Homo sapiens: one gene and its partners. The protein of the gene in region 3 purifies or fractionates together with the protein of the main gene of each other region. This does not show direct contact. Each region holds a gene or a part of one and is shown on either strand. Other genes may lie near its edges. The genes, in order: ENDOU, AKR1C2, PRXL2A, ALDH3A1, DSG3 and SCEL.

Evidence for each region.
Region 1: the proteins of PRXL2A (region 3) and ENDOU purify together in Homo sapiens (affinity purification with mass spectrometry; one large-scale study listed by BioGRID and IntAct). This does not show direct contact.
Region 2: the proteins of PRXL2A (region 3) and AKR1C2 purify together in Homo sapiens (affinity purification with mass spectrometry; one large-scale study listed by BioGRID and IntAct). This does not show direct contact.
Region 4: the proteins of PRXL2A (region 3) and ALDH3A1 purify together in Homo sapiens (affinity purification with mass spectrometry; one large-scale study listed by BioGRID and IntAct). This does not show direct contact.
Region 5: the proteins of PRXL2A (region 3) and DSG3 purify together in Homo sapiens (affinity purification with mass spectrometry; one large-scale study listed by BioGRID and IntAct). This does not show direct contact.
Region 6: the proteins of PRXL2A (region 3) and SCEL purify together in Homo sapiens (affinity purification with mass spectrometry; one large-scale study listed by BioGRID and IntAct). This does not show direct contact.

Annotation. Positions count from the first base shown.
Region 1 is NC_000012.12:47,722,039-47,727,430, reverse strand, and holds the start of ENDOU (uridylate-specific endoribonuclease isoform 1 precursor), read left to right. Parts: upstream 1-1,940; 5' UTR 1,941-2,017; coding exon 2,018-2,072; intron 2,073-5,392. UniProt on the Homo sapiens protein: Endoribonuclease that cleaves single-stranded RNAs at 5' of uridylates and releases a product with a 2',3'-cyclic phosphate at the 3'-end. The UU and GU sites are more efficiently cleaved than CU and AU sites. Targets mRNAs to regulate their expression.
Region 2 is NC_000010.11:5,000,792-5,006,155, reverse strand, and holds the start of AKR1C2 (aldo-keto reductase family 1 member C2), read left to right. Parts: upstream 1-2,298; 5' UTR 2,299-2,320; coding exon 2,321-2,404; intron 2,405-4,474; coding exon 4,475-4,642; intron 4,643-5,364. UniProt on the Homo sapiens protein: Cytosolic aldo-keto reductase that catalyzes the NADH and NADPH-dependent reduction of ketosteroids to hydroxysteroids.
Region 3 is NC_000010.11:80,431,867-80,435,731, forward strand, and holds part of PRXL2A (peroxiredoxin-like 2A isoform 1 precursor), read left to right. Parts: intron 1-119; coding exon 120-233; 3' UTR 234-3,865. UniProt on the Homo sapiens protein: Involved in redox regulation of the cell. Acts as an antioxidant. Inhibits TNFSF11-induced NFKB1 and JUN activation and osteoclast differentiation. May affect bone resorption and help to maintain bone mass.
Region 4 is NC_000017.11:19,737,102-19,741,934, reverse strand, and holds the end of ALDH3A1 (aldehyde dehydrogenase, dimeric NADP-preferring), read left to right. Parts: intron 1-724; coding exon 725-842; intron 843-1,457; coding exon 1,458-1,599; intron 1,600-2,260; coding exon 2,261-2,427; intron 2,428-2,839; coding exon 2,840-2,939; intron 2,940-3,481; coding exon 3,482-3,612; intron 3,613-3,699; coding exon 3,700-3,714; 3' UTR 3,715-3,946; downstream 3,947-4,833. UniProt on the Homo sapiens protein: ALDHs play a major role in the detoxification of alcohol-derived acetaldehyde. They are involved in the metabolism of corticosteroids, biogenic amines, neurotransmitters, and lipid peroxidation.
Region 5 is NC_000018.10:31,470,505-31,475,337, forward strand, and holds part of DSG3 (desmoglein-3 preproprotein), read left to right. Parts: intron 1-1,779; coding exon 1,780-1,919; intron 1,920-2,220; coding exon 2,221-2,284; intron 2,285-3,616; coding exon 3,617-3,900; intron 3,901-4,833. UniProt on the Homo sapiens protein: A component of desmosome cell-cell junctions which are required for positive regulation of cellular adhesion. Required for adherens and desmosome junction assembly in response to mechanical force in keratinocytes.
Region 6 is NC_000013.11:77,566,706-77,571,538, forward strand, and holds part of SCEL (sciellin), read left to right. Parts: intron 1-974; coding exon 975-1,043; intron 1,044-1,589; coding exon 1,590-1,628; intron 1,629-2,665; coding exon 2,666-2,746; intron 2,747-4,833. UniProt on the Homo sapiens protein: May function in the assembly or regulation of proteins in the cornified envelope. The LIM domain may be involved in homotypic or heterotypic associations and may function to localize sciellin to the cornified envelope.

The DNA of each region.
Region 1 (5,392 bases), on a different chromosome or scaffold from region 3:
CACTAGGAGAACCTAGCCAGGCTGTACTCCACTCTGACAGCTTTGGCTTCAGCTAGGGTCCACCCAGCTGGACACTTGGAAGGGACAGACCATTCATTCCCAAATTCTGAGGCATCATTGCTTCCCAGGCCAGCCAGTGACACCCTCCTTTGTCCCCTAAACAACAGGAGTCAGAGACACGTTTATGTGGTGCCAACCCAGGGAGGATGAGGATTCTGAGGGGCAGTGACTCTTCAGCCTGCTTTTGGATTGTGTAAATGAAATCTATGCAAATGAAGCAGCCATTTCTGCTCTTACTCATTCTAACCAGCTCCCTTCTGGGAGAGAAGGGCTAGGCTCACTCTTTAGTTGTGCTTCCGGGCTGGATGCAGTGGCTCACACCTGTAATCCCAGCACTTTGGGAGGCCAAGGTGGGCAGATCACCTGAGGTCAAGAGTTTGAGATCAGGTTGGCCAACATGGTCTCTACTAAAAATACAAAAATTAGCCAGGTGTGGTGGTGCATGCCTATAATCCCAGCTACTCGGGAGGCTGAGGCATGAGAATTGCTTGAGCTGGGGAGATGGAGGTTGCAGTGAGCCGAGATCACACTGCTGCACTCCAGCCTGGGCGACAGAGAGAGAGATTCCATCTCAAAATATATACATACATTGCACTTCCTGTGTGAGCCCCTTGCAAAGTTTGCTTGCCCTAGGCTTGTCCTTCTCTCTACCCCTGAGTCCCTATGTTTGGACTCCTCTCTACACAGCAACAGGCTGGGGGATTCTCTTTAACCCACCAGCAACTGTTCAACCTGGCGCATGGGCAGGAAAACTCGAGATTAAAGTCTGAGAACCTGGAAGGGATTGTCAGATCCAACCCCATCATTTCAGATGAGAAAGCTGAAGACCAGCGAGAGGAAGAAACTTCTCCTGTTAAAGCACACTGGATGAAGACGTGCTCCACTCCCAACCTCCAGAAAAAAATCACTGATAGAGTGGCCTCCACTGTTCACCAATTTTGCCTTTTTATATGATAGTTTTCTTTCCTGAGAGGGTTGAGAATCCCCATGCAGTGCTCTTTCTGGCAAGGGCATCATACTTGGCAGATTTTACCTTTATTATCGGGGAAAACTGGACAGTCACGGGGAGCTGCTCCCCTTCTTTTGGACTTGGAAACAAAAGAACCTCACTGGGGAGGAGTTCCTGAGGAGAGGAGTGTAAGTTGGGGTGAAGGGAGTGAAACCCTGGGCTCCCAGGGGAAGAAGAGTGGGCCTTCGGCTGCCTTTAAGAGGCCTCTTGCCCCTCCCCTGCCTCATAAGGAATCTGAAACGTTTAAACCCCAGAGGCTGACTCAGTAAGAGTCATTTGCATAATATTTTAGAGTGATTTAGCCATGCGCTCGACATGTGGCTGATTTAGCTATGCTGGGCTTGGTGGTCATAAGAATAGCACTGGTTCTGACCGACACATCCTCTATCTCTCTGTCCAATGACCCCAACCCTTGCTTGGGCACTTACTGTTTGTCAAATTTGGACCAATCACCTTACTGTGTGCCAGTGTCATGCTAAGCTCCAGGAATTTGAAGATGAATCCAACCTGTGGCCCCTTGGAAAGTCAGGTCTGAGACTTGGAAGTAGGTGTCTGTTTGGTGGGGATCACCCAAAGATCAGCCCATGGGTGTCCCTAATTTGGACAAAGAACCCTCCAAACTGGACCCATCTTGGTGTGCCTGCCTGCATGACCTATTTTTTAAGCTGCAAACAGCTAGCATTACCTGTTCTCAACATCTGGCATTACCTACCTTCTTAGTCACCTTCCCTCAGGCTTCAAACAGCTGTAGGGCCCCACCTCCTATCCATCTAGGGTCCCTCCCTCCCCTTTTTCTTCCTGAAAGGATCTGGAGACACCAGCTCCACAAGTCCTGGTGTCTTTAAAAGGATCAGCTTGAGGAATAAGGCTCGTCTGAGAGCTGTGACATTCATCTGACTCTAGTGAAAGTCCAACAGCCACTCCCTTTTTGGCCTCCAACTGGGCACCATGAGGGCCTGCATCTCCCTGGTATTGGCCGTGCTGTGTGGCCTGGCCTGGGCTGGTAAGTCACTATCTGGCGGGCATGGGATTGCTGGTGGGGCGGGATCTTGCCTAAAGAAGCAGAGAGTTGGAGAACTTGGTAGAGGGCAGGGCCGTGGGACAAGGGAGGGTGAGCTCTGTCCTAAAGCCGCAGAGCACTTTTGGGTTGTCCTTGTCTGAGGGTGCAGGCGTTGGTCCCGGAATGGACTGGACTATGTGGAGAGAGTTGCAGGGCTGATGGTCTGATTTCATGGAATTCCCTTCTTGACACCTTGGAGGATCAGCCCCAAATATCCCTTAGTCCAGCCTGACTTTTGATCTCCCCAAGATTTTGTTGTCTGGGGCCACTGTAAGGAATAAAGCTAGGGCTGGTGTCCATGGGGTCTGAGTGGCCTGGCTGCCCTTGGTCACTCCTTCCACTGCCTGGTGACAGGTGAGGTTGTTTAGGGTGTGATGTTACTTTGGGTAGAGCCTTAGGAGGTGGGCAGGCTTAGGAGGAAACTGAAAGGACCTTTGACCAGGAGGTGGGCCTCGTCCTATCTGGGGCTGTACAGGGGTCAGAGGAATGGATCTCTGTTGCAGTGTTAGGAGAATTGAAGAATACAGAAGGGACCTGGCCCACAGTTATGAGAGGTCCAGGGGATGGGACTGGCAGAGGAACAGGACCATGTTCCTGTTTAGTAACTGTGCAAAATGCTGGTGCTGATGGGTTAATTGGTAGCTAGTGGGTGGGTGGGAAGGAGTGCCAAGGGAGGGGCTGAGCTGAGGAGTGTGGGGAGAATCCTCCTCTGCCCACAGGAGAAAGAATCCTTCCACTGGGTTGCTCCTGTGTAGGACTGTGGAAAGGATTAAATGAAATAATGTATGAGAAGCACCTGGTGCAAAGTGAGATCTCAGTGAACTGGAAATTCGCTATGATTATGACTATAAATTTTCTTGGGAGAAACTTCCGCTTGGGGTCATTTCCAACTGGGTTGTGGAAAGGAGACCCTTATGGGATTTCTAAGTGGAAAACCCCTGGAAGAGGAAGTTGTGCCTCCCAACCATGGATGAGATAGTGCATCTTACCAGAAACCAGCTCTGCCTGGGCCCTAGTGGGTGGAGAGGCAGTGGGAGAGCATGAGGGTGGGCCTGGGAGCCACCAGCCTCAGCCCTGTTGGTTGGGAGGAAGGTGGAACTTGGGGGCTTAATGTGTAGGGGTGGCCAGCGGGCTTGGCATATTCCAGCCTTAGGGAAGGAGAGCAACTCTGGATATTTGGTCCCTGGGGGGCAGAGGTAGCAGTGGCTTTAGAAGTGCAGGTGGAGCTCTTGCTGCTAGGTCGGAGGGCAGTATCTGCTTTGGCTGTGGGATCGATGGGGAAGTGAGGTCAAGTGTATGAGGCTTCCTAAGGTGGCAGGGAAGAGGCTCTGCACTTGTTGATACTATCCCAACATCTCAGAACTGAGAGGCAAGAATATGAATCACATGGGGAATCACTGACAGCCTCAGGTCCTCCTTTATGAGCTGGATGTCTGTGGAGAACCTTGGTTGATTTTTTTGGTTGTGAATGGAGGCAGGAAGCTAGTCCAAGGGGTGAGGCTTCTTGGTTGACTAGGTCTCCATGGAAACAGCATCTGGGGCCTTCTAACGGTACAGATGTGTAGGATGTCCCAGTCATCAGAGGGGCTGAGCACCAGTGTACAGGGACACTGTGTCCACCCAGGCTTGGGACCAAGCTTCCTTGATGGCCAGTATGGATAGGGAGTGGCTGTTCTGGCATATTGAAGTCTTAGAAAGTGCAGAGAAATTGAGCATTTCTTGGGGGAATGGAGGGAGAATCTGAACCCGAGAGAGGAAAGGCTCAGATGAAGAAAGGCAGAGAGTCAGAGAGGTGAGGCAGAGGAACAAGAGGCACAGGTTACTACAGCAGTGATTCAGGCACCTGGCTTGGGGAGCAAGGCTTACTCAGAGTGTTGGTGTTAATGGTGCAGTGTGGGGATGCTGGAGTGAGTTGTTAGGGTGACTAGTTACTCATCAGAGTGTCCCCAGAATGTCACAGCAAAGTGCCTATGAGGAAAAGTTCCTCCCACCCCTGCACTCCACTGTCAAATCCCAAGGTCACCTTGAAGCAGACTAAGTGCACAGAGAAATGTGAGAAAGTGCTGGCATGGGGCTCTTGCTGGAGACAAAGTTCTTGAGCAGAGATGAAAAAGCCCACTCAGCTTGGGCCGGCGGGGGTGCTCTCCTGCACGTCCAGCTGACTGCTCGCTTGCAACCCTTCTCAACTGGTGCCAGCTGCTGGAATGAAGTGAATTCTTTCCCTGGACTCTGCTGATTTGGCCCATTAAAAACATTGCCCTGATTTGCCTGAATTCTCTCCCTTTGGATTCTGGGTGTACTGCCAGGCTGACTGAGCAGGGAGCTGATGGGCTGAAAATTTCTCCTTAAGGTCTTTGCATTCAGGCTCCAAGGGAGCATCATTTAACATTCAAGAGGAGTTCCTGCCGGCTTGAAGGAACAAGTGGCCTTGGGCCTGGTCTCTTTTAGGGACTGGAAACCTGCCTTCCTGCCCACCTTGGAGGCCTGACAATGTGAAGTTGTCTGAGGACCCGGGTTAACCTTGACCCAATGCCTCTCTGATGTAAAGAATACAGACCTGTAGTGATGAAGTCAGCCAGGAAACCAGCAACACAGATGTGCTGACAACCCAGCCCAAGGGATGGCCCTGTTGAAACCCTGGGAGAGTGTCAGCTAGATTAAGTGTGTCGACGGGGCCACAACACAGGGAAGACTGCTCCAGCCAGTCTGAACACTTGTCACTTGGAAGATGGGCATGAAATATTGCCACCGTTTATTCACCTAACAAATACTTCTATGGTACTACTATGTGTCACTTGCTGTCCTAAGTGCTTTACATATATTAACTCATTTAATTCTTACAAATATTCTATGAGATAGGCTCCATTATCATCCCACTTTTACAGATACGAAAACCAACGCACAGAAGTTCAAATAACTTGCCCAAGATCACATAGCTAGAAAGCAGTAGAACCAGAATTCCAGCCTCAAGCAGTTTGGCGCCAGAGTCTAGGTTCTTGACCTCTCTGCTATGCTGTCCCTCATTAGACAAAGTATCAACCTTAATCCCAGAATCCAATACTAGGGACTGGTAACCAAACCCAACCTCTAATATTTAAGCTCTAACCCACTCCAGGCTTAAATTAAGATACTACACCTGTATTGAATCATAACCAGAACCAAGCCCCCAAACAAAACAGGGATTATTCATCTTTTTCTCATCCTGACACATTCCTCAACCCCGAATGTCATCTTAAGTCTATTCCTATTCCTTACCCAAATAT
Region 2 (5,364 bases), about 75 Mb from region 3:
CCCCTTCTGGGAATCCAATACTATCATACTGGTTGGCTTGAAGGTGTCCCATAAGTCCCTTAGGACCTGTTCACATTTCTTTATTCTTGCTTCATGTCCTTAGACTCAGGAATTTCAAGTGTGCTATCCCTATGTGTATTGATTATATCTTCATCCTGCTCAAATTTGCTATTGAAACACTCTCTGGTGAGTTTTTCATTCAGGTATATTTTTTAGCTCCAATTTGTTTCCTTTTCTTTTTATAATTTCTGTATTAATACTATATTGTGATTTTCTTATTTTTTCAGATTTTCTGTAGTTCTTAATCCATATTTTTCATTAGCAATTTTAGCATATTTAAGACAGCTGTTTAAATGCTTCTCTACTAATTCTAATGCCTGTGATTCTTCAGGAATGATTTCTACTGATTTATTTCTTCCTCATAATGGACTGTGATTTCTTGTTTCTTTGTATGCCTTGTCATTTTATTTTTTTGAGCTGGAGTCTTGCTCTGTCACCAGAATGGAGTGCAGTGGTGCCATCTCGGCTCACTGCAACCTCTGCCTCCTGGGTTCAAGCGATTCCTCTGCTTTAGCCTACCGAGTAGCTGGGACTACAGGTGCTCACCACCACGTCCATCTATTTTTTTTTGGATTTTAGTAGAGACGGGGTTTCACCATGTTGGCCAGGATGGTTTCCATCTCCTAACCTCGTGATCTGCTCACCTTGGCCTCCCAAAGTGCTGGGATTACAGGTGTGAACCACCGTGCCTGGCCTGTATGCCTTGTTATTTTATTTAACTGGGCATTTGAAAAAATAAACATCTTTTTTACTGTATATAGATTTGTTCTATGTCATGACAGTCATTAACTTATATGTGCGGCAGGTTCTCAGTCAAGGCATCAGCCCTACGTAAAACTCAAGTCCTTCTTAGTTTGTTTCTGAACATGTACCTATGTGGACTGTGTTTGCCCTTTTATATTTCCCCAAATAACCAATGGCTTTTGAATTGCTTACTATTATGAAATTTTGCATCCCAGTTTCTCCTCAATAGCTTAGATGGACTATTGCATGTCTCTTCCCCTGGCCTTTTGCCTATAACATCTGTATGTGTATAGTCACCCTGAATCTCTACTGAGCCACTCCAGAAATAAATAAGTTTATTTCAGTCAATTTTAGGTATTTTCTGATGTTTCCATGAGTTATATGGGAATCTTAGAATCCACCATCTTGTTGAAATTACTCTGTGAAAAATTTCAATATCTTTATAATATTACATTTATGTCAATGATAACAATTTACCTATTTTTCAATTTCTGTTTGTTTTATGAGAAAGCAAATAGAAGCAATCAGGGCACTGCAAGTTGTGACTACTCCAAGATGTGAATCATGGATCATGCAAATTACAATCTTGTTTTAACCTGACCTCCAAAGGGAGAATAAAGTAAAAATTATCCCATGTGAGGATTATTCACCAGTTTATATGTCATTAGTTACCAGTTTTTCTTTATGAATAATGTTTAGCAATATTATAAAGTATATCTAATAGTTATCAGGTTTTTGGCTTGTTACTTTTTGGTAGTAACTTATAAAACTGACTGGAAAAGACCAATAAGGCACTGTTTGCATGTTACAAATTATATCCAAAGACCAAAAGCTGTTAATAAGAAATCTTCCAATAAAACCACATCATATTTTCTTTTTTATTTACACCCACATCAGGATTACAACTTTATCAGGACTGCACCTTGATCAGGAAGGGATGTTTCTCTTACAAGGCTAATAAGAAAGGAACAATAAATTTGCTGATGAAAAAAAGTCATGCATTTAAAAATTTTAACTTTAATTTTTAATTGAGGGCAATATTTTAAAGAAATGCTCATTAGTCATTCCTTTAAATTGTGTGTGTGAGAGAGAGAAAAATGAAAATTAGTCATTTCAAATGCTGCAAGATGCAGAAGGAACTCATCATCATGGCACACACAAAAAAGAGCTGTGCCGCTAGAGGTTTCTATATTCTTATGTAAAGTCACAATTTGTTCTACAAATCTCTTTGAGTAATTTATGTCTCATATATAGAGATCTGGAATAGCAAAAATACTTCAGAGGAAATTAATGAGTGTATCATGACCACATAATAATTTACTTATGAATTTTCTTAGGTAAGAAACGGTTGAACTGGATGCAATTTTTATCACAGCTTGTGTAAGACTGCCTCTGTCCCTCCTCTCACATGCCATTGGTTAACCAGCAGACAGTGTGCTCAGGGGCGTTGCCAGCTCATTGCTCTTATAGCCTGTGAGGGAGGAAGAAACATTTGCTAACCAGGCCAGTGACAGAAATGGATTCGAAATACCAGTGTGTGAAGCTGAATGATGGTCACTTCATGCCTGTCCTGGGATTTGGCACCTATGCGCCTGCAGAGGTAACAATAATATTTTTAGTGTTGAGAGTTCAAAGGAGCTAGAGTAAGTGGAAGCTGACCAGGTTGTCAGGCTTGTGTTCCTATGTTACTCTGCATGACTCCCCTTTAAACGTCAGTCTTTGTTCTGCAATGCCGTCTTGTCACAGGGTCATCTACTGCTTATTTGTGGCACTGTTTTGTCTTCTGTTTATGTTTATTTCACAGCTTGTCAGAGTCTATAAAACTCAGCAGAAAGAACACGGCTTGCCTGCTCCCTCTCTTGAAGATTGATTGCAATGGGAGTGGTTTCTCTGTTTCTTTGTATAGTCGAACAGATATTTACTTCTTCCAAGAAGATACAATTCAGAGGAATTTTTATGGCAAAAGTTAGTGGAGACGGGGTGGATGAAATCTGTTGGGAGAGTATCACTGTTCTGATGGGCGGCCTTGAGCACCACACTGTAATACTAGACCTGGCCTAAAGAGAATTTCCCATGTACTATTCTCACCTCTGGGAAAATTACCTGAAATAATAAAATATCCTCATTTTAAGAAAAAAAAAAAAAAACTAGAACCAAACAAGGAAAGTTTAAATTCTTTGTCTTTGTTAATATGGGTCAGATTTGTATCAAAATATTGTAACAGAAAAATTTCTTGTTTCTCTGACAAGAAAATTAATGGAATATATTTTATTTTCTAGATTTAGAAATAGCTAAATGCTATTTCTACACTGGAAGAAAACTTGTATCTCAAGACTGTCTTGGGAATACAATGTGTGTGAATAGGAACTAGTTATATAAAATTTGAGTCTCACATTTCTCATCTATAAGACATAAGGAGTTACAAAGGGACATTTTGAAGACCATTGACAGGAGTGGTTTATTTTGTAATATAAATTGGCATGGAGAGGAAGTAAAGATGAGGATACCACTGAAGCTCCGGCCTTGGTAAGCCTTTGATTGCTTGCACAGCGAAGAGAAGATCAAAGATGGTATGAGGAGAGGGCTGTGAGACCCGGTATCTAGTTCCTTGTAATTTCACAGGAAAAAGCCTCTGAAATACTTTCAAGGTGGGAAGATAGTTTGCTTTGTTTCTGTTTTTGTCATTTAAAAGATATACTGTCAAATCTGTATCCAAATTTGTTACATAAGTCAATAATTGTAAATTTTACTGCAATCATATGTTTCCTGACAGAGTTGCCTTGAATTTATGGAGCTGAACCCCATTTTGCTAATCACTTACTCCCTGCAGCCTATTTCTTACATACACAAATCAATATCCTTAGAGTATACATCTTTACTCCTAGTATTTGGTTCTGTTATGCAGACAGAATGGCCAAAACCTGGGTAGAAAAGATCTAACATAATAGACTGCTATCCATAGATGTGCCTATTTCCAATATAAACCTGCTGGCATCTGAGAAAGTGGAGTTCTCCCTGTTTCCTAACTGATAAGAATGGTGGCTCTACGTAACTGTTTGTGTAAACTGTGGGGTTTCTGTGCACCTGCTTTGCTTTTGGAGACTGGAAGATTTGTGTCTGCTAGGCAGAGTGAGTCAATGTATCCAGTCCCAGACAAAATCTTAGCAATGGAGTATGTAGAGGGCATCTCTTGTAGACAACAGTTCACATACATTGACAAAATATGATGCTGGATAAAGTCAGTGCGCTCTGTGCAACATGGTGGGAGAGGAATCACAGGAGCTTACACTGCATTCCTTCATAATTCCTTCCATGTGGCTATTTCCTTGTGTTAATTTCACCATACTAAAAATAATTAAGATTATGTCTGTAACTATAGTTGCGTCCTGTTGATTTTTCCAAAAAATCACTGAAAGTGAAATTGTTTTGGGGACACTTCCAAGCTAGTGGTCAAGCAGTGATTTTTCTGGGACTGCAGAAGTTCCTGCTATGCCCAACCTTTATTACTAAATGGGAAAGACCCAGTCAGACTGGGATGGGCTTATGATTCTACATACAGAGCTCATCCAAGAAAGGAGGAAAAGCTGATTTTTGTGAACGTTGCTGCTTGTGCCCGAACTAACTCTCAGGCACATTAGTCAGAAAATATTACGTTTGGTTGCTCCCCCAGGTTCCTAAAAGTAAAGCTCTAGAGGCCGTCAAATTGGCAATAGAAGCCGGGTTCCACCATATTGATTCTGCACATGTTTACAATAATGAGGAGCAGGTTGGACTGGCCATCCGAAGCAAGATTGCAGATGGCAGTGTGAAGAGAGAAGACATATTCTACACTTCAAAGGTACTGTGCCTATGATGAGCTTGTGTGCACATGTATTTATTGTGATTGTGTGGAGGTGGCAGTTCTATGACTGGATCCATAGTTGAGGGTGAATTGTGCTTATTTATTTCGATTTATTCACACTTACTCATGTATTAAAACTAATATCAAAGGCAGGAAGTGAAGATGGCTTTCTCATCTTTGCAGTGTTCCAATTCATGCCTTCAAAGTGCCTTTACTCTTCGAGCTCAGCACAGATCAATATGGTTTAACATAGACTATAGAATGAGAGATAATCTTAATCATATTATGTTATCTGTTACCTCCTGGGTGAGTTTCTTACATTTGTTATGATTCTGAGTTTCCATTGTCATTTTGATCAGAGAGAGAGAGAAAGCGATATAAGAGAGCTCAGTGAGTATAAAAGAGTGATACCTACATTGTTTTAAATTGCATCCAGCCCAAGTTAACATATTAAAAACTGTGTTTGCCTCCTCAGTTTCCAAACCACAAAGATACTTAGTCTTGCCCATTGGGCTGAATAGATGAAATAATTACACCACTAATATGAGTTGTAAAACTTACCAAAGATAATTCAGATAATGGGTATGCTTATGATTTGATAACAACTTTTACCTTTTGAGTAATTTCACTCTTTCATTCAATATATGTACTAACTATATATCCAACATATTATAAAGTTCATCATGATATGGCAGAACAAAAGGCATCACAAGAAGAGA
Region 3 (3,865 bases):
TTGGATCTGTGTCCTTTGCTATTCAAGCAAAAGGCTTGACAGACAGCTGGTCCTCGATGCCTGTCTCATGAACGAACGATTTAGGATGAGGACTGACATTATCTCTTGTTTCCTTTTAGGGCATTCTTCTTGAGCACCGAGAAAAAGAATTTGGAGACAAAGTAAACCTACTTTCTGTTCTGGAAGCTGCTAAGATGATCAAACCACAGACTTTGGCCTCAGAGAAAAAATGATTGTGTGAAACTGCCCAGCTCAGGGATAACCAGGGACATTCACCTGTGTTCATGGGATGTATTGTTTCCACTCGTGTCCCTAAGGAGTGAGAAACCCATTTATACTCTACTCTCAGTATGGATTATTAATGTATTTTAATATTCTGTTTAGGCCCACTAAGGCAAAATAGCCCCAAAACAAGACTGACAAAAATCTGAAAAACTAATGAGGATTATTAAGCTAAAACCTGGGAAATAGGAGGCTTAAAATTGACTGCCAGGCTGGGTGCAGTGGCTCACACCTGTAATCCCAGCACTTTGGGAGGCCAAGGTGAGCAAGTCACTTGAGGTCGGGAGTTCGAGACCAGCCTGAGCAACATGGCGAAACCCCGTCTCTACTAAAAATACAAAAATCACCCGGGTGTGGTGGCAGGCACCTGTAGTCCCAGCTACCCGGGAGGCTGAGGCAGGAGAATCACTTGAACCTGGGAGGTGGAGGTTGCGGTGAGCTGAGATCACACCACTGTATTCCAGCCTGGGTGACTGAGACTCTAACTAAAAAAAAAAAAAAAAAAAAATTGATTGCTGTGCCTCATTACAAATGCATATGATGTTTGAGTGCTGTTGTTTGAAATTATTTTTCTTTTCGGGTCTTCAAAAATTCAAGAAAAGTTGATGATTGACTTGAAGATTACAAAATTTAAGGTTTTTTGGCATGTGTGTTTTCTATTAATAATTGGTTATATGATGTCAAAGTAATACTTTCATAATAGAATTGACATGCTCTGGGATAGTTTGACAAAGGTAAATTATAAAGTGAAATCTCTTGTTTCATTATCTTCCATTCTAACCTCAGAGATCTGTTTCTCTAGAAAAAATGTCCATCTCTGGCTTTAATAAAATTATGCATCAGAAATCACCTGTATGTATAAGATTTTCTGATAAAACTAATAATTATATTTACCATATAATTGGCTGAAAGTAAAAAAAGTCAGCATTCTCCATGGCTGAGGGGTAAAGTGCCTCGGGGGATTCCTCTGGTTCTAGCTATCTAAGTGGTTTGAAAATGACCAGGAAAAATTCATCCTGTCATTCACGTTAGTAATTTTGCTGTCTTTCCTAGAGGAATGACTTTGGTGTTTAAAATTGGTAGCTGTTTTTCTATTGGTCTTTTAGCCTAATTTGGCAAATCAGAAGAAAGGACATAGAGATGATGAAATATAACTTTATCTTTTTTGTTTGAATTTTGTCGTGTAAGTTTGAGTGACATCATCAAGACCTACCAGGGAGCTCGGCCACAGGGAGTCTACTCAAGGCATCAAACTGGCCCAGGAGTAGAAAGGTGGGGGTGGAAATAGGAAATAGTGTTTACCCAGGGGACTGGCCCAGCCAGGAGGAGAAAGGAATCAGTGTTTACCCAGGAAAGCAAGAATGGATACTGATGTTGGAGGTAAAGCTGGGAAAGTAGGAGAGCATCGGGATTGAGTATGCAGAGTGAGTTAGGGTTGAGTGGTTCGGGACTAAGACCCACTAAGACCATGCCTGCACCTGACTTCATGTAGCAGTGGTTGCATGGGGTATGCATGGGCCCTTAAAGGGCTGGGCTTCTGCAGCATTTGAGGCCATAGCCTTTGGTACTTGCACAGGGTTGGTACCTGTCATCCTTGGGACTCCAGCTACTGATAGGATAACTCAGTACCTAAACTTAGAACTTTAATACCTAAGACACTTGATGGTGAAACAGTTCTCTTGCAACTAAAGAAGAACCTGAGGTCAGGTGTGGTGGCTCACGCCTGTAATCCTAGCACTTTGGGAAGTCGAGGTAGAAGGATCACTTGAGGTCAGGAGTTCGAGACCAGCCTGGCCAGCATGGTGAAACCCCATCTCTACTAAAAATACAAAATATTAGACAGACGGGGTGGTACATGCCTGTAATCCCAGCTACTTGGGAGGCTGAGGCAGGAGAATCGCTTGAACCCAGGAGGCAGAGGTTGCAGTGAGCCGAGATCGTGCCACTGCACTCCAGCTTGGGCAACAAGAGCGAAACTCCATATCAAAAAAAAAAACCTGAGAGGACATTGCACCAATGGAGATGCATCAAGAGAAACATGTTTGGTTTTTTGTGAGCTCTCACCAACTTTTTTCCCCTGGGTCCTCACGTGCAGTGTGGTCTTCTCTTTCTGATTAGCATGTCATTTTGGAAAGAGCACTGGATTGAGTCATGAGGCATAATCAATTTCTAGTTTACCAGTGTGATCTTAAGCAAAGATCTAACTCATTGGCAAAATGGGCGTGATTCCTTCCCATTCAGGGCTGTTTATGATAAGTCACTGAGGGAATGATAAATATTATGACACTGCTTCTCAGACTGTAATGTACATGCACATCACATAAGGACCTTATTAAAATGGAGACTTAAAAAGCTGGACGCTAAAGGCAATAATGACAGATTTTACTCAATAACTACTGCAGAAGGAGAGAGTCCTCAGTATAGAACTGAGCTTAGCTCCAATCTGTGCAGAGGTGATGGAATTTTAAAGAGGGGAGGGAGGAGGTTCAAATAGAACTAGGGAAGTGCAAAATTACAAAAAGCTGGTAAGGAGATTGGTCAATGTGATTCGGCTATCTGTGTCTACTAACTCTCAAATTTATTTATCAAAGTTAGGATCCTAGCCTCCCACAGAGACCAGGAGTCGGCCTTATCATTCCTGATAATTATATGACAAAGGGATGGCTCCCAGAAAAAGTGAGAAACACATTCCTGTGCAGCAGAAGATACATATATCCCCCAAAGGGACAGAAAGGATTTACAATTGTAAATTTTATAAAGTATGTCCTCTAAGAAGAGGGAGGGACTGGGTGCCATGGCTCATGCCTATAATCCCAGCACTTTGGGTGGCCAAGGTGGGTGCATCACCTGAGGTCAGGAGTTCAAGAGCAGCCTGGCCAACATGGTGAAACCCTGTCTCTACTAAAAATACAAAAGTTAGCCTGTTGTGGTGGCGCGCACCTGTAATCCCAGCTACTCGGGTGGCTGAGGCAGGAGAATCGCTTGAACCCAGGAGGCGGAGGGTGCAGTGAGCCGGGATCACGCCACTGCACTTCAGCCTGGGTGACAGAGTGTGACTCCATCTCAAGAAAAACGAGGGAGATTAGAAACCTATGATCAGGCATTGGCTGAAACAAATGGTAAATTCTTTTGGCAGCCTTGAGCTTCCCCAGGCAGGGACCCAAAGGGGCCTGGGTTATCCCTGAGACAGGGCCTTGAGCTGCTAGAAACTATGCTAGTGTTTGTTCAAGTCTCTCCGTGTCCGGGGTGAGCAAAATTGTTTGTGCTGAAAATCAATGATTTGCAGCTCTCAAGATTCCAGTGGGCAGTCTGGGTGGGCCTGAGTTTCTGCTTTTTTTTTTTCTTTATGTACAGGGTCTTGCTCTGTCACCTAGGCTAGAGTGTAATTAGTGGCCCCAGTCATGGCTCACTGCAGCTGCAAACTGGCTGCAAGCTGTTCTGGCTCAGCCTACCAAGTTACTGGGCTTACAGGTGGATGCCACCGTACCCAACAGATTTTATTTTTGTAGGGATGGGGGTCTCCCTGTATTGCCCAGGCTGGTCTCAAACTCCTGGCCTCCCAAAGTGTTTAGATTACAGGTGT
Region 4 (4,833 bases), on a different chromosome or scaffold from region 3:
ATGCTGTGGGTCCACTCTGAGTAACACAGACACCCCCTGCCTCATGGAGCAGTGGTCCTTGCAGAAACTTACATGGGGGTAGGGGTGGGGACCACATGCACAGAAGACGTGTGGGGAGTCCCAGAAGGCTTCCTGGAGGGGGAGAGGTCTAGGCTGAGCTCTGTTTGCTGAGTGCGCATCACTGGGGAAGTGGTACTCCAAGCAGAGGCTGCAGAAAAAGCAGCTGTGGGACGTTCAGGACACAAGGAACTGTACTGGGTTCAGCCCTCTGATGGGGCAGGGCAATCTGAGTTCTGGAGAGCAGGCCCAGAGGGGAGAAGGGCCACCGCTGCTCGGGGTCTGGGGCAGAACCCGTATCTGCACCTCCTGACCCTAGCCAGGGCTCTGACCACCTCCATATCCCACATCTGTGGCCCCAGAGATGTAGGGGGGCCCGAGTAGCAGTGACACCTGGCTGTGCAGGACAAGGGCGTGATCAGGGAGCACGGAGGTTGCCCTCAACAGACGTCCTCTAGAAATTCCCCACCAGTCGCCGGTGAACATGATCAGGGCCATTGGGTCTGCTCGGTCCAGTGTCTAGAAGTGAGCAGACCGCTTGGGAGGACTCACTGGTGGCAAGGTCACAGCCGATGGCTTCTGCTGACCAGAGAGCTCAGGGGTCTGCAAAACGAGATGCAACTCCTGGGGAACCTTTTGGATTTAGTCCAGTCTGGGATTCTCACAGACGCATCGCCTGGGGGAAATTCATGAACAGTGGCCAGACCTGCGTGGCCCCTGACTACATCCTCTGTGACCCCTCGATCCAGAACCAAATTGTGGAGAAGCTCAAGAAGTCACTGAAAGTGAGTGTTGACCCCTTGGCAGGGTGGGATGAGAGGCTGTAAGGCACAAGGGGGGCCTGGCCCCTTAACCAACTTCTACAGATTTGGAAACACTGGATTTATTTTCTTCTAATATAAACATAATGCAAGCTAGGCATGGTGGCTCACACCGGTAATCCCAGCACTTTGGGAGGTAGAGAGTGGAGGATCACTTGAGGCCAGAAGTTTGAGACCAGCCTGGGTAACATAGCAAGATCCCATCTTTACAAAATATGTTTTTAAATTAGCCAAGCATGGTGGCATGGTGGTGCATGCCTGTTGTCTCAGCTACTTAGAAGGCTACGGCGAGGCTGGAGCATTGCTTGGGCCCAGGAGTTTGAGGCTGCAGTGAGCTATGATTGCACCACTGCACTCCAGCCTGGGCAACAGAACAAGACCCTGTCTCTAAGAGAAAAAAAAAAGATAATGCACACTCACTATAGATTATTTAGAAAAGATTAAAAAGCATAAAGAAGAAAAAAGCTCCACCCAGAATCCCACCACCCAAAGACAGACACTGCTGGCCTGTGTCTGTGCAGCCTTTGGGCAGGACGAGGCTCTGCGTCCTTACCCGAAGCCCCCACCTCTTCTCCACAGGAGTTCTACGGGGAAGATGCTAAGAAATCCCGGGACTATGGAAGAATCATTAGTGCCCGGCACTTCCAGAGGGTGATGGGCCTGATTGAGGGCCAGAAGGTGGCTTATGGGGGCACCGGGGATGCCGCCACTCGCTACATAGGTGCGTGACCCCTGAAGAGCACAGCCCACCTGCCCAGGCTGCAGGGGTCCCCAGCAAGTTCACAGCAAGTGGGCACAGATGCTTGATAAGCGGACACGACCTCGGGATGGGTATAAATTGCTTTCACCAGGGAGCCTGCGGTAGACTCCAGCAGGCAGGGGCTGAGGACAGCCCCTGCTTCAACCTCAGAATCCCCTCTCCCAGCAAAGGCCCAGAAAGAGGGGCCTCATCTCCCTGCCCCTCTGAAGCAGCAGGAGCAGGGACAGCAGAAGCCACAGGAGCCCCAGGTGTGCCCAGCCGTGAGGGGCCCCCAGTGCCCAGGCTGTGGGTCACCAGATGGGACCCTCTTGGCCCCGAGTTTGTCAAGGAGACAAGAGAATTCTGGCAGGGCATCAGGTGGCCGGCAGGTGCAGTGCCTGCTCCTGGAGACAGATCTCGGGTCCTTCCGTACAGGTTAACCTATAGTTGTCCCCAGTGGTCTGCTCAGATGGCATCCAGGACGCAGGTGCCTAGGGTACCTCTCTGAGGCCTCGTCCCTGCCCTTTTCCAAGCCTGGGCAGGTTTGCCTGGAAAAGGGTTGGAGCAGGGGTCTAGGTGCTTGCACTTTCCATCCGCGTGGGGGTCTCTGCGCCGTCCAACTCTGGCTTGTTTCCTGCCTCAGCCCCCACCATCCTCACGGACGTGGACCCCCAGTCCCCGGTGATGCAAGAGGAGATCTTCGGGCCTGTGCTGCCCATCGTGTGCGTGCGCAGCCTGGAGGAGGCCATCCAGTTCATCAACCAGCGTGAGAAGCCCCTGGCCCTCTACATGTTCTCCAGCAACGACAAGGTGGGTGGTGGGCCTGGGGTGCCCTCTGCCAGGGTCCTGGGGCCCACAGACCTGGGTTCAAACTGCAGCTTCACTGTTCTCTGGCTGTGTGACCTTGGGCAAGTCACTGGATCTTTCTGAGCTCCTTTCACCTCGTCTGTAAGATCAGGACAGCAGCATCACCTGAGGGCACTGAATGAGCGATCCTTGCCCAGGGCCCTGCACACAGGCATGGGGGCGGCTGCTGTCACTCTTTGCTCATGTGGTGCTGACAGCCACGCGGTCTGCAGGAAGAGCAGGAGATGGAGGCTAAGGCTCTGCCTCCACCTGCTCCTGTCCTTGTGGCTCCAGGCTATACCCAGGCAGGGTCGGGTTGGGGGCTGGGGCATCCTGTGGGCAGGAGACTGAGGCCAGTGGCTGGGTCCTGGTGCAGGTGATTAAGAAGATGATTGCAGAGACATCCAGTGGTGGGGTGGCGGCCAACGATGTCATCGTCCACATCACCTTGCACTCTCTGCCCTTCGGGGGCGTGGGTGAGTCTGGGGCTGAGCTTGCTGCCTCCCTCTGGGCCCCAGGGCTGGGCACACTCACCCAGCAAATTCAGGAGGGACCACCTCCTGCAGCCCGGGCGGCAGCCTCCCATTAGCCTCTTCCATTTGGACCTTGGCCTCTGCGTGCCATCCATCAGACACACTTAACCTGGGAGCCTAGAGGTTCCTAGAGGTCACCTGGTGCACCGGCCTATTTCATGGAGGCCTGAGAAAGGTGACCCAGGCCAGAGGTCACACAGCCATTTAGTGGCAGAGCTGGGATTAGACCCTTGCTGGGCACTCCCACAGTGTGGATGCCCTGGGGACACCCTAGACATTGGCCACCCTCAGGAGGCCCAGAAAAGGGCCACAACCTGGGGCTGGGTGCTGAGGGCCATAGGATTTGAGGGAAGGATGGGTGATGGTGGCTGGGGCTCTGCCTCCCTGTCCCTGTGGTTCTGGGATACACCCAACAAGGTGGAGAGGGAAACCTGGGGCGTCCTGGGGGCAGGATGCTGAGCCCTGTGCTTACTTCTCCTCCGCAGGGAACAGCGGCATGGGATCCTACCATGGCAAGAAGAGCTTCGAGACTTTCTCTCACCGCCGCTCTTGCCTGGTGAGGCCTCTGATGAATGATGAAGGCCTGAAGGTCAGATACCCCCCGAGCCCGGCCAAGGTGAGAGGGGGAAGGCGCTGTGGGGGAGACCGGGCTGTGCGGGACCAGGGCCTGGGGATCACTGCCCACTCCGTGTCCCTTTCACAGATGACCCAGCACTGAGGAGGGGTTGCTCCGCCTGGCCTGGCCATACTGTGTCCCATCGGAGTGCGGACCACCCTCACTGGCTCTCCTGGCCCTGGGAGAATCGCTCCTGCAGCCCCAGCCCAGCCCCACTCCTCTGCTGACCTGCTGACCTGTGCACACCCCACTCCCACATGGGCCCAGGCCTCACCATTCCAAGTCTCCACCCCTTTCTAGACCAATAAAGAGACGAATACAATTTTCTAACTCAGCAAATGCAGGCATATGGCACTTCTTTTGTAGCCCTGCACCCACCGACCTGTCCTGCCTGATCCCACTGCCCCACGCAGTGTGGTCACTGATGTACCAGCAAAGGCCTCTCATCAGCTGGTGGGGCCTTGTGCCAGGAGGCCATGCACGGTGTCAGGGTGACACTTGTCTTCCTTTTAGACTTGGGGAGGTCAGCTCCATCTCTGGTGTGTCCAGCCAAGGAGAGCCTGAGGAGGCTGGGCCTTGTCGGCACAGTGGCTCAGATATGGGGAGCTGATGCCGTCTCTTCCCAGACTAGCTTCACTATCTCGGGCAGGGGCCACTTTGTGAGACGATGCAGTAGTCAACACAAAACGCCCTGGTGATGTCATAGTGCTGCTCGTGGGGGCAAAGGACCCGAGGCCAGGCAGCACCAGCACCCACGGTGCCTCAACTGCATGGCGTTGGGCTGCAGCTGGCCCAGAGTCCCGCCCCAGAGGCCTGAGGAGCCAGGACAGGGTCTGGCAAGGGGAGTCTGAAGCTGGGTGTTCTGGGGGCTGGTTAGACTCAGAGCCAGGAAGCCTCCCAGCCTGGGCCTGGCAGGTAAGGGGAGGCTGCTGGGGGAGACCTGCTGAGGCTGGGCCTGTCCCTCAGGGTCCTCTACACAGACTCTCCTGGTATCATGCAGGAAAGCCCTCCCGGCTTTTGCTGAGATTTCCTTGTGAAAACATAGAGTTTTGTGCCACCACCAACAGGTGTGCCTGGCCCCACCTGTGCCTGCTCCCAGCAAAAGCCCACCCTCCACCTGGCCCGTGCCCCGCCACCACCACCCCCTTCCCACTCCTGACCTTACTCTCTCTCCTGCATCTTCAGTTTCCCCTTCTGTCCTGGACCATTCCTATTCTCTAG
Region 5 (4,833 bases), on a different chromosome or scaffold from region 3:
GATTTGGTTTTTCAATATCGTATTAATCAAGTTCAAGAACCAGAAATTTTTAAGTACCTCTATGTGAATCACTATGCTAGCTTCTAGCTGAAAAGGAAACTTGATTTTGGTTTTCATGCATGTCTAACTATAGGGGAAAAATACCATGATAAAGCTGTAATAGAAATTACTACAAAGGGGTAATTACAGAACATTTCACGGAATAGAGGAATCATTCAATTGAGCCTTGAAGAATGATTAGGATATAATCAGTATAAAAAATGGAAAAGGCATTTCCAAAAATTGACAGCATCAGCCAAGGCCAGAAAACACTTAGTATTTTCTGTTTTAGGAATCACACAGCCTTCGAAGGCTAAAGCGCGGGGAAATTGTGGAAAGTGAAGGAGCAACAGAGAATGCATTGGGACTAATTTGAAAGGGCTACATACACATGCTGTGGTGTTTGTACTTTATCCTATGAGAAAGAGGAGCTGCTAAAAGCATTTGAATAAAAGACTAACATGATCATATTTGTATTTTAGAAAGACAACCCTGGCAACAGTGTGTACAGTATAACAGTGTAAATTAGAAAGGAAAGAACACTTAAGAGGTCATTGTAAAAGTTCAAGAGAGATGATGAAGGTCAGATTTCGAGCTGTGACATGAGACTGGAAAATAAAGGACAAGTGTGCAGTGCATTACAGTGGCCCCTGGAGAGGATTGGGAGATTAATTGTTATGGTCTGAATGTGTGTGTCCCCCCAAAAAAATTCATATGTTGAAACTTAAACCCTAAAAAAATAGTATTAAGGAGTTGGGCCTTTACCTATATTAATTCAATCCTCATAACAACCTATGATGTAGATACTATTTATTCCCCCATTTTATGGATGAGTTAACTGAGCAAAGAAGGATGATATTACATGCCCAACATTACATAGCTGTTAAGTGGTACAGCCGAAATTTAAACCCTAGAATCTGACTTCGGAGGCTGCATGCTTAAACCCCTCACTAAGCTGCCTCTAAGTGAAGAGAGTTGAAACATTAGGATTCAGGTGGCCTTGGCAGGGCAGAGGTGGCAGTGGGGCCACTGACAACAAAGTGTGGGAAACACCTGCTTTCAAGAATAAGTATTTCACTCTTGGTCAGTTCACATGAGAATGACATTAATCTTTATTGCCAAGGATGTGCACAGAAAGATATTTACGCTGCCAGAAGAGTCCTCCAAGCTTAAGCCACAACTAAGAAATTCTTAAATTACAATTAAGAATGCATTGACAGCCATTGATTAGGCTATCACCCTAGTTACTGAGGGAGTTTTCTGGTTAATTACTGTTTACTGAGAGATAATTAGAGACTAGATTACCAAAACACCATCGTGCCCACCTAAAATCTGGACCATTCTGGTCATATATTTATCTGTGTATTCACCTGACACAATATACATAGCCCCAACATGTGCAAATAAATGCAATAATCATAAAAATGTATTAAGGAAAAGGATTGAGGAGCCAAACAGCCACTTTCATTCATACATCAGTGCCTATTTTAAGAAAATATACCAAAAAAATAACAACAAGAAATGATCTGATCTGTCTCCTTCAGTTTCATAATCACATGAAATTCTAGTGTGCTTACTGTACCAAGTTTCATTTGTAGAAACTAATTTTGGTTTTCATTAGGAATTTTCTACAAATATTTAAGATACTGTATTTTCTTTGTAACATTTCTGAAAAATTATCACATTAAATAGTTCCTAAATTAGTCAAGTGTTCTGATGTTTTGTTTTGTTTTTCACTAGTGGCCCCCCTTCTGCTGTTGACCTGTGACTGTGGGGCAGGTTCTACTGGGGGAGTGACAGGTGGTTTTATCCCAGTTCCTGATGGCTCAGAAGGAACAATTCATCAGTGGGGAATTGAAGGAGCCCATCCTGAAGACAAGGTAAGCATCCAGTTCATAAATTATGTATTTCAATTACATAGAGAAAATGTTTGATTTACATTGAGATAGGAAAAGAGGCAAAGAGATTTCTTGACCTTCAGTTTCAGAGTCAGTGCTGAATAGATGGAGGCTTTTAGGATTTTAGCTCTTCAGATGTCAAATCACAGAAATGGTTATCGCTGAAAGAATTTGCACTTCTTGTAATGTTATCATTTACAAATTTGCAAAGGGCCACATGTCACTATATTGCTCTGAAATCTGGTTCACTTTTAAATGAATTTATTTTTCACATGGTTTGCAGGAAATCACAAATATTTGTGTGCCTCCTGTAACAGCCAATGGAGCCGATTTCATGGAAAGTTCTGGTAAGTGGACATAAAATGTTTGAAAGCAATGGTGAGTTAAGTGGTAAATATTAAAAAATAAGAAGTGTTCAAACTATCTTCTTAATAATTTGCATCTGTGTGCACATGTCAGGAGCTGTTACCACTGAAATGGAGAAAAGCTGTTTTAATATTTTTATATTAGTCAATTCCCTGACATGTCTGGCTTCAATAAGTTAATTTATCCATTGATGCCACCATTGTCAATATCTAAAGATCTGTTATACTTTTTCCAAACTTTAGTGACGTGTAGTTCTCAGGCAATCAATTACTAATTTTTTAATTAGGAAAGACTTCACACATATAGAAAAATGTAAGGGAAAATATAACGAACATCTATGTATCCACCACCCAACTTTGTCTTTTCCAAACATTAGTCATATTTTCAGTTAAAGTCTCATGTGCACATCCTTGATCCTGTTCCCCTTCTTTCTTCCCCAGAACTAACAGTATCCTGATTTCAGTTCAATTACTAATTCCTGCATTCAGTCATACTAGGACATGATCACTTATGTTGTCATACAGGTCATACAGGTGAATTTGTTTATTTCTTTGGTTTTACCAAGTGGCTATTGCATTAATATTATCTGAGTGCCACAACTACTCAGTGAACTAAAAGAACAATAATACTTAATGCCTAATATTAAAGTTTTGCTTAATTCCATAGATTGTTTTCAAGTGTCCATCCTGCAAAATCCGCATGAGATTTCCCCAAATATGTAACTGTCTTCCTTTATCAGATGCTCCACTCCTCACCTGCTTTTCCCATTAGAATTACATAGCAAGAGCTATGTAAAGAATTATCTAGAAAAAAGTAACTTTCCATGAAAGCATAATGTCAAGGTAACAGGCTGAATAGTCATGATTTGTTAAATTCTCTTTAGGTACCAAGACATGCTAATTTGCATGATTACATTACGTATGTTTCCTCTTTGGTTTCCATACTGAGCTCATAGGACTGCTTAACTATAATGTTTTTTCGTGAAAACAAACAAGCATTGCATTAGAAGCTTCCCATAACTGTGTACTAAATATCCTGTCTTTTCTATTTCTGGCTGTTGTCACTGAAAATCTTATTTCTTTGTACACTTTTAAAATTAGTATATTTTTAGAGCTTTTTCACCCGTTTATATGCCCTCCTTTGTGACTCTCACATAACACATTGTGGGATGTTATCACCTCTAGTCATATAATTGTATTTTCTCCCACTTACTTGTTTGCATGGTGACTGCTTATAGACACCCAAGACCCATTTTATAAAAATGCAACAAACAACAGCATAAGATATTACAGAATGTTCTCCCTTGTTTTTAGAAGTTTGTACAAATACGTATGCCAGAGGCACAGCGGTGGAAGGCACTTCAGGAATGGAAATGACCACTAAGCTTGGAGCAGCCACTGAATCTGGAGGTGCTGCAGGCTTTGCAACAGGGACAGTGTCAGGAGCTGCTTCAGGATTCGGAGCAGCCACTGGAGTTGGCATCTGTTCCTCAGGGCAGTCTGGAACCATGAGAACAAGGCATTCCACTGGAGGAACCAATAAGGACTACGCTGATGGGGCGATAAGCATGAATTTTCTGGACTCCTACTTTTCTCAGGTAATTTGGTGAAAAACTTTGTGGCTTGATTATCTTATTTACATTAGAGAACTTTTTATTTGATTATATACTTCAGTTTTGCAGTTTTTATTTACAGCTTGTTAAAATGCAAGAAAAAAATGGTTTGTTTGTTTTTTGCCAAAATAATACAGATAACCTAAGGTAGCTGTCAAAATCGGGTCACTGATCAAAAGAAGAATGGGAGCCAGGCACAGTGGTACATGCCTGCCATCCCAGCTACTCGGGAGGCTGAGGTGGGAGGATTGCTTGCACCCAGGAGGTAGAAGCTGCAGTGAGCTATGATGGCACCACTGCACTCCAGCCTGGGTGACAGAGTGAGACCTCGTCTCTAAAATAAACAAATTAATAACAAAAGAAGAATGAGTAGATAACCACAACATGAGAGCATATAGCAAGTAGTATCTCATTCCTCCAACTGAACAAACAATTGAGGGCAAATCTCTTTTATGTGAGAATTTCTAGCATCTTCTTTAAGAATACAAAGCAGTTCATTTTGTATTTCCTGTATCATAAAGGATATCCAAATACCTGTGTGTATATTTTCCTGAGAGAGGGGTAGAGTATTCACATTATCTGTCTAAAAAAGTTGAAGAACCACTGAATTAATGACCCCCAAAAAAGGGGAGGCAAAAAGAATAGGATGGAAGATCAGTGATGGGAGGAATGACATGTCAGGAAGCATAGAACAGAAAAGGAACATAGTTATGAAAACAAAGAAGACTTTGAAAAGTAGGATGCTTGCCTCTCATTTGATAACCAAAGATTAGTGGGCAGAGAGGCACGGTTAGAATGGATCTCACATTGAGTTTTGGTATCAATACTGGTAAGTGCCAAGGTCTGACCTAGTATCCAAGCAGACAAAGAGTGATATTGTGTTTGAAGAAAGACTGCAGGGCAGGGGAGAAAGGGAGG
Region 6 (4,833 bases), on a different chromosome or scaffold from region 3:
TGGAGTCCATGAAGTGACTCAGGGACCTAAGTTCTTTCTATATTTTAATGCCGCCATATTTATGCTGCCATGCATACCAAAGCCATAGTAGAAGGGGGAATAAATAACAAGGAAGACCACCAGGAGGTTTTACAATGGGTCTGGAAGTGGCAGATAACGTATCTGCCCACACTCTTTAGTCTAGAGCTCAATCACATGGCCCCAACTTAATTGCAATGAAGGTTGGAAAATGTGGTCTCCCTGATTGCTCAGAAAGAAAAGAAAATGTGTTTTGCAAACACATAATATTGTTTATGCCACAAACCTTAAAAAAAAAGCCAAGTAGTTCATTGATGCCTTTTACTGACATAGGAAGTACTGTCATTGACAAGATATATCATTAGAAAATAATGAAAATGAAAATAGAGTTAAATGCTCAATGAGTCAGAAAGACAAACAGGCAAAAGGCATAACACTTAAAATTTCAGGCTGGGTGCCTTGGCTCACACGTGTAATCTCAGCACTTTAGGAGGTGGAGGCGGATGGGTTACCTGAGGTTAGGAGTTCGAGACCAGTGTGGCCAACATGGTGAAACCTCTTCTCTACTAAAAATACAACAATTAACTGGGCGTAGGGGTGCGTGCCTGTAGTTCCAGCTGCTCAGGAGGCTGAGGCAGTAGAATAGCTTGAACCCTGCGGGCAGAGGTTGCAGTGAGCTGAGATCACACTACTGCACTCCCGCCTGGGCAACAGAGCAAGACTCCATCTCAAAAAATAAAATAAAATTTCAAACTATATTAAAACAACCTCATAAGTAGATTTTGTCATAAGTGGTTTCTTTTTATTTAAAAATTTTCTAAAATGTAACACTTGAAAAATAGTTCTCTTTACTAGAGAAAGGCTATGTTGTTAAGCTATTCTAGCATGAAAATGGTCTGAAAGGAGTTTGATAATTTAAATATTTATCCAGACTTTTGTCTTGTTTCTTTATAAAGGATCTCAGACAGAAATGATGCTGCTAAAACATATAAGGCCAATACCTTGGATAACCAACTAACCAATAGGTACCAGTATCTACTAACTATGGGAAAGGCTCAAGTATAATATTTTTCTAAGTGTTACCTATGTACTTGCAATTCTTCAATCCTACTTGATATCTTTCTGTAAATTCTTAGTCTCTATCATTACTCCTGTTCATGGCTAGAATAAAACCTTGTTGTTTAGCTTAAGAATCAAGAGCACTTGTAGCTCCAAATCACCATTCTTACCACATTTATGTTTCTGTTTAAGTTGTCCTGGTGGCAAAATTATGAAATAGGTGCAAATGCAAATTTTACATTATTATTGTTAAGGAAAATTACTGAACCCAACAAATAAAAATATTGGGCTTAAAAGATACTAAATTTTCAGAAGAAAAAAAATTCTTTGGAATCTAGTACAAGAGACAAAATCATGAAATCATCTTATGAAATTTATTAAAATATGATGCTTTCTATTTCTTTCTCTCACCAGTGTCTAACTTTTAAAACTCTAAATTCAGGAATAATTCCAAATAGATGCAAATGTTCATTCTTCATTGTTCAAACTTTGCTTTCTTTCTCTCTTACCAGGAGCATGTCCATGTTTAGATCACTGGAAGTAACAAAGTTGTATGTATTCTTTCTAATTGTAGTATATTTCTTTTTATGTATTCAAGAAAAACCAGGGAAAACCACCTCAGGCCAATTTTATTGGAATACAGCCATGCCCCTATTGCTCTGGCAGAGTTGAGTAGTAGAAGACAATACCAAAATGGTCTGTAAAGGTTCAAATGTGACTATCTGGACTTTTGCAGAAAAAAAAGATTGCCAATCATTACTCTATCCAAACACCAAAGCTTAGATCATCCTTTCTTTCTTCTTCTTTATTAAAATCTAGACTCCTTATTTTTTCCCCTACAGGACTTTTCTTCCCTCTACTCTCACAATAATTAACCCTTCCTCCACACCTCACTTCCTTCCCCACCCACCCTTCACATCTATGCCTCCTCCTTCAGAGAAAATTGAATTGGGAAAACATGGGGTGAGCTAAAAATCTATTTAAATGGAACACATTTTCCCTGGAATGTACTACTGATGGTTATAAGCAGCCCAAATCAGACAGATTTATAAACTTACTTTATTTTTGAATTCCTATTTATGTATAAAGTAATTTATACACTGGATCACACCTCTCAGTGCTTGAAATGGGCCTGGGTCACTTCCATTTTTGAGGCTCTGCATATATGAATAAATGCCAGATAGAGACTTAAGATGGTATGATTTAAAATTTTTTATTAAGCAATAATGCTTCTAATGCAAAAAACCGCAACATAATTAGTTAGTCACAATATAATCACAGGAATAAAAGAAATGTGAATCTGTAGCACGCCAGAATTGATTTGTCTGAATTTCCGACAGTTAATGTCATTTTATGAATCACTTCTTTATTCTATTCCTTTAGTTTTAGCTAGTTCTATGAGAACCTGACAACTTCTAAAATATGTCAACTAAGGAAGAAGATTTTTGGCTGTTTTTCTATCCCCAAGTGAAACATTTTATGAACAGAGAGCAGGCAGGAATATGAGTAGAATTTAAGACTTTTCAAAGGTAGGCTGAAATGAAAAAGTTTGAGAGTGGGATTAATTGTTGTTCTTGTCATTAAACAGGCAACCTGGCGGTTCATTGAATGCCAACACCTCCAACACCATAGCATCCACTTCTGCTACTACTCCTGTAAAGAAGAAGAGGTAGGATGAACTCACTGTGTCTACCTCTTGCTGATACACTATGAAAGACTGCATTAGAAAGCTTCCTCCTCTTTTTTGTGGGGATCCAGCATCTACATTCTGCTGTTCCCAAACTTCAGCTCTTTCCCCCAGCAATCTCTTTCTCAAATATAGAGTCTTGTTTTCAATTCCTGTAGGGCCTTGAATTTCTAGGAAATGTTTTAGATGATAGAGCTCGCATGTTAAATGACAGACTACTTGAGGTAGCATGTTTCATGGAGTCCTGCTGCTGGGAATGCCTTAACCTGAAATAATGATGAATGTAGGGCCACATGCTGCCATGCTCCTGAAACCGGCCTGTATCTGGAGATGCCGCCTCTGCTCTGTGGATTGGGCTGGCCTTGCTTCCAAATGCAGAGTCAAAGACCCTTTCTGGAGACATCCATCTGTATTTGTTTGGTTCTTGCCTCCTCCACCGACCTCCTCTGCATGGTCTCCCACATTCTGCTGGTGCTGAGTCCTATGTAATTAGCAGGTACAGAGGAGTAGTTGGACCAATGGTGACCAAATATTCTTCATGAGACAGAACATGATGGTGAAAGAGATGTTTGCATGTTGAAAAAACCCCAGGGCTATGAATTGTGATGCAAATGGAAAACAAGCATTTACAAACATCAGTGCTTTTAAATTTTCTCAATTTCCCTGTCTGTACCTGGGTCCATGCTCTGTACAGGGTAGGTGCTCAATGTTTGTTGATGGACTGGCTGACTTTGCCATGGTGCTGCTGGAGAAAAATGACTGATTCTGTTTTTTCCTTCAACAAAATTCTGGCTGTAGCTGCAAAGTCTTAGAAAATGTGATTCATCTTTCCATTGAACCCAAATTTCATGTCCCTTGACCCTTTGCCTAGTAAAAACAGATTCCTAAGTTTGAAAGAGAAATTTTAGGTCAGTCAGTTCCATCTCCTATCTAGTGCAAGAATCTTTCCTCCGACATTTTGGGCATAATTCGGGACCACTGAAGCCATCAATAAGATTCTCACTATTTTGGGACACATCTTTGACTTGCTCTCCTGGGTAGCATCTATTCCTTACATTGAGCTGGAATCTGCCTTGATTGACTCGTTCCTTGTCTTAGTTGAGTTCTGCAGCGGCTCAGAGAATAGACCTACTTAAACAATTTAAATCCAGCTTTCCTGTCTGCCTTTTCTTCTGTAGTGCATATCATTCTCATCTGAATATCTTCAGTTTTCATCCATATCTTGATCTTTCTGCTTAGCAATTGCTACCAACTAAAATTATGACCTAGTGATGTGAGGACATCTTTCTAATTGAGGTTAGAACTGAAGGTAGTGCTGCTATAATATTCACTTACGCTTTCAATATTTTTACTTGTCAGAGTTTTCTATCAGTTTCTTTTCTTTTTCTTTTTTCTTTTTCTTTTTTTTTGGAGTGTGCAGTGGTGCAATTTCGGCTCACTGCAACCTCTGCCTCCCAGGTTTAACCAATTATTTGCCTCAGCCTCCCGAGTAGTTGGGAGTACAGGCACATGCCACCACGACCAGCTAATTTTTGTATTTTTAGTAGAGATGGGGTTTCACCATTTTTGCCAGGCTGGTCTTGAGCTCCTGACCTCGTGATCCACCCGCCTCAGCCTCCCAAAGTGCTGGGATTACAGGTGTGAGGCCCTGCGCCTAGCTCGCTCACAGTTTTTTAAAAATTGTATTTTGAGGCCGGGCGCGGTGGCTCAAGCCTGTAATCCCAGCACTTTGGGAGGCCGAGGCGGGTGGATCACGAGGTCAGGAGATCGAGACCATCCTGGCTAACACGGTGAAACCTCGTCCCAGCAACTCGGAGGCTGAGGCAGCAGAATCGCGGAGGGCGGAGCTTGCAGTGAGCCGAGATCGCGCCACTGCACTCCAGCCTGGGAGACAGCGAGACTACATCTCAAAAAAAAAAAAAAAAATTATATTTTGAAGCTGGGCGCAGTGGCTCATGCCTGTAATCCCAGCACTTTCAGAGGCCGAGGCAGGTGGATCACCTGAGGTCGGGAGTTCGAGACCAGCCTGACCAACATGGAGAAACCCCATCTCTACTAAAAATTACAAA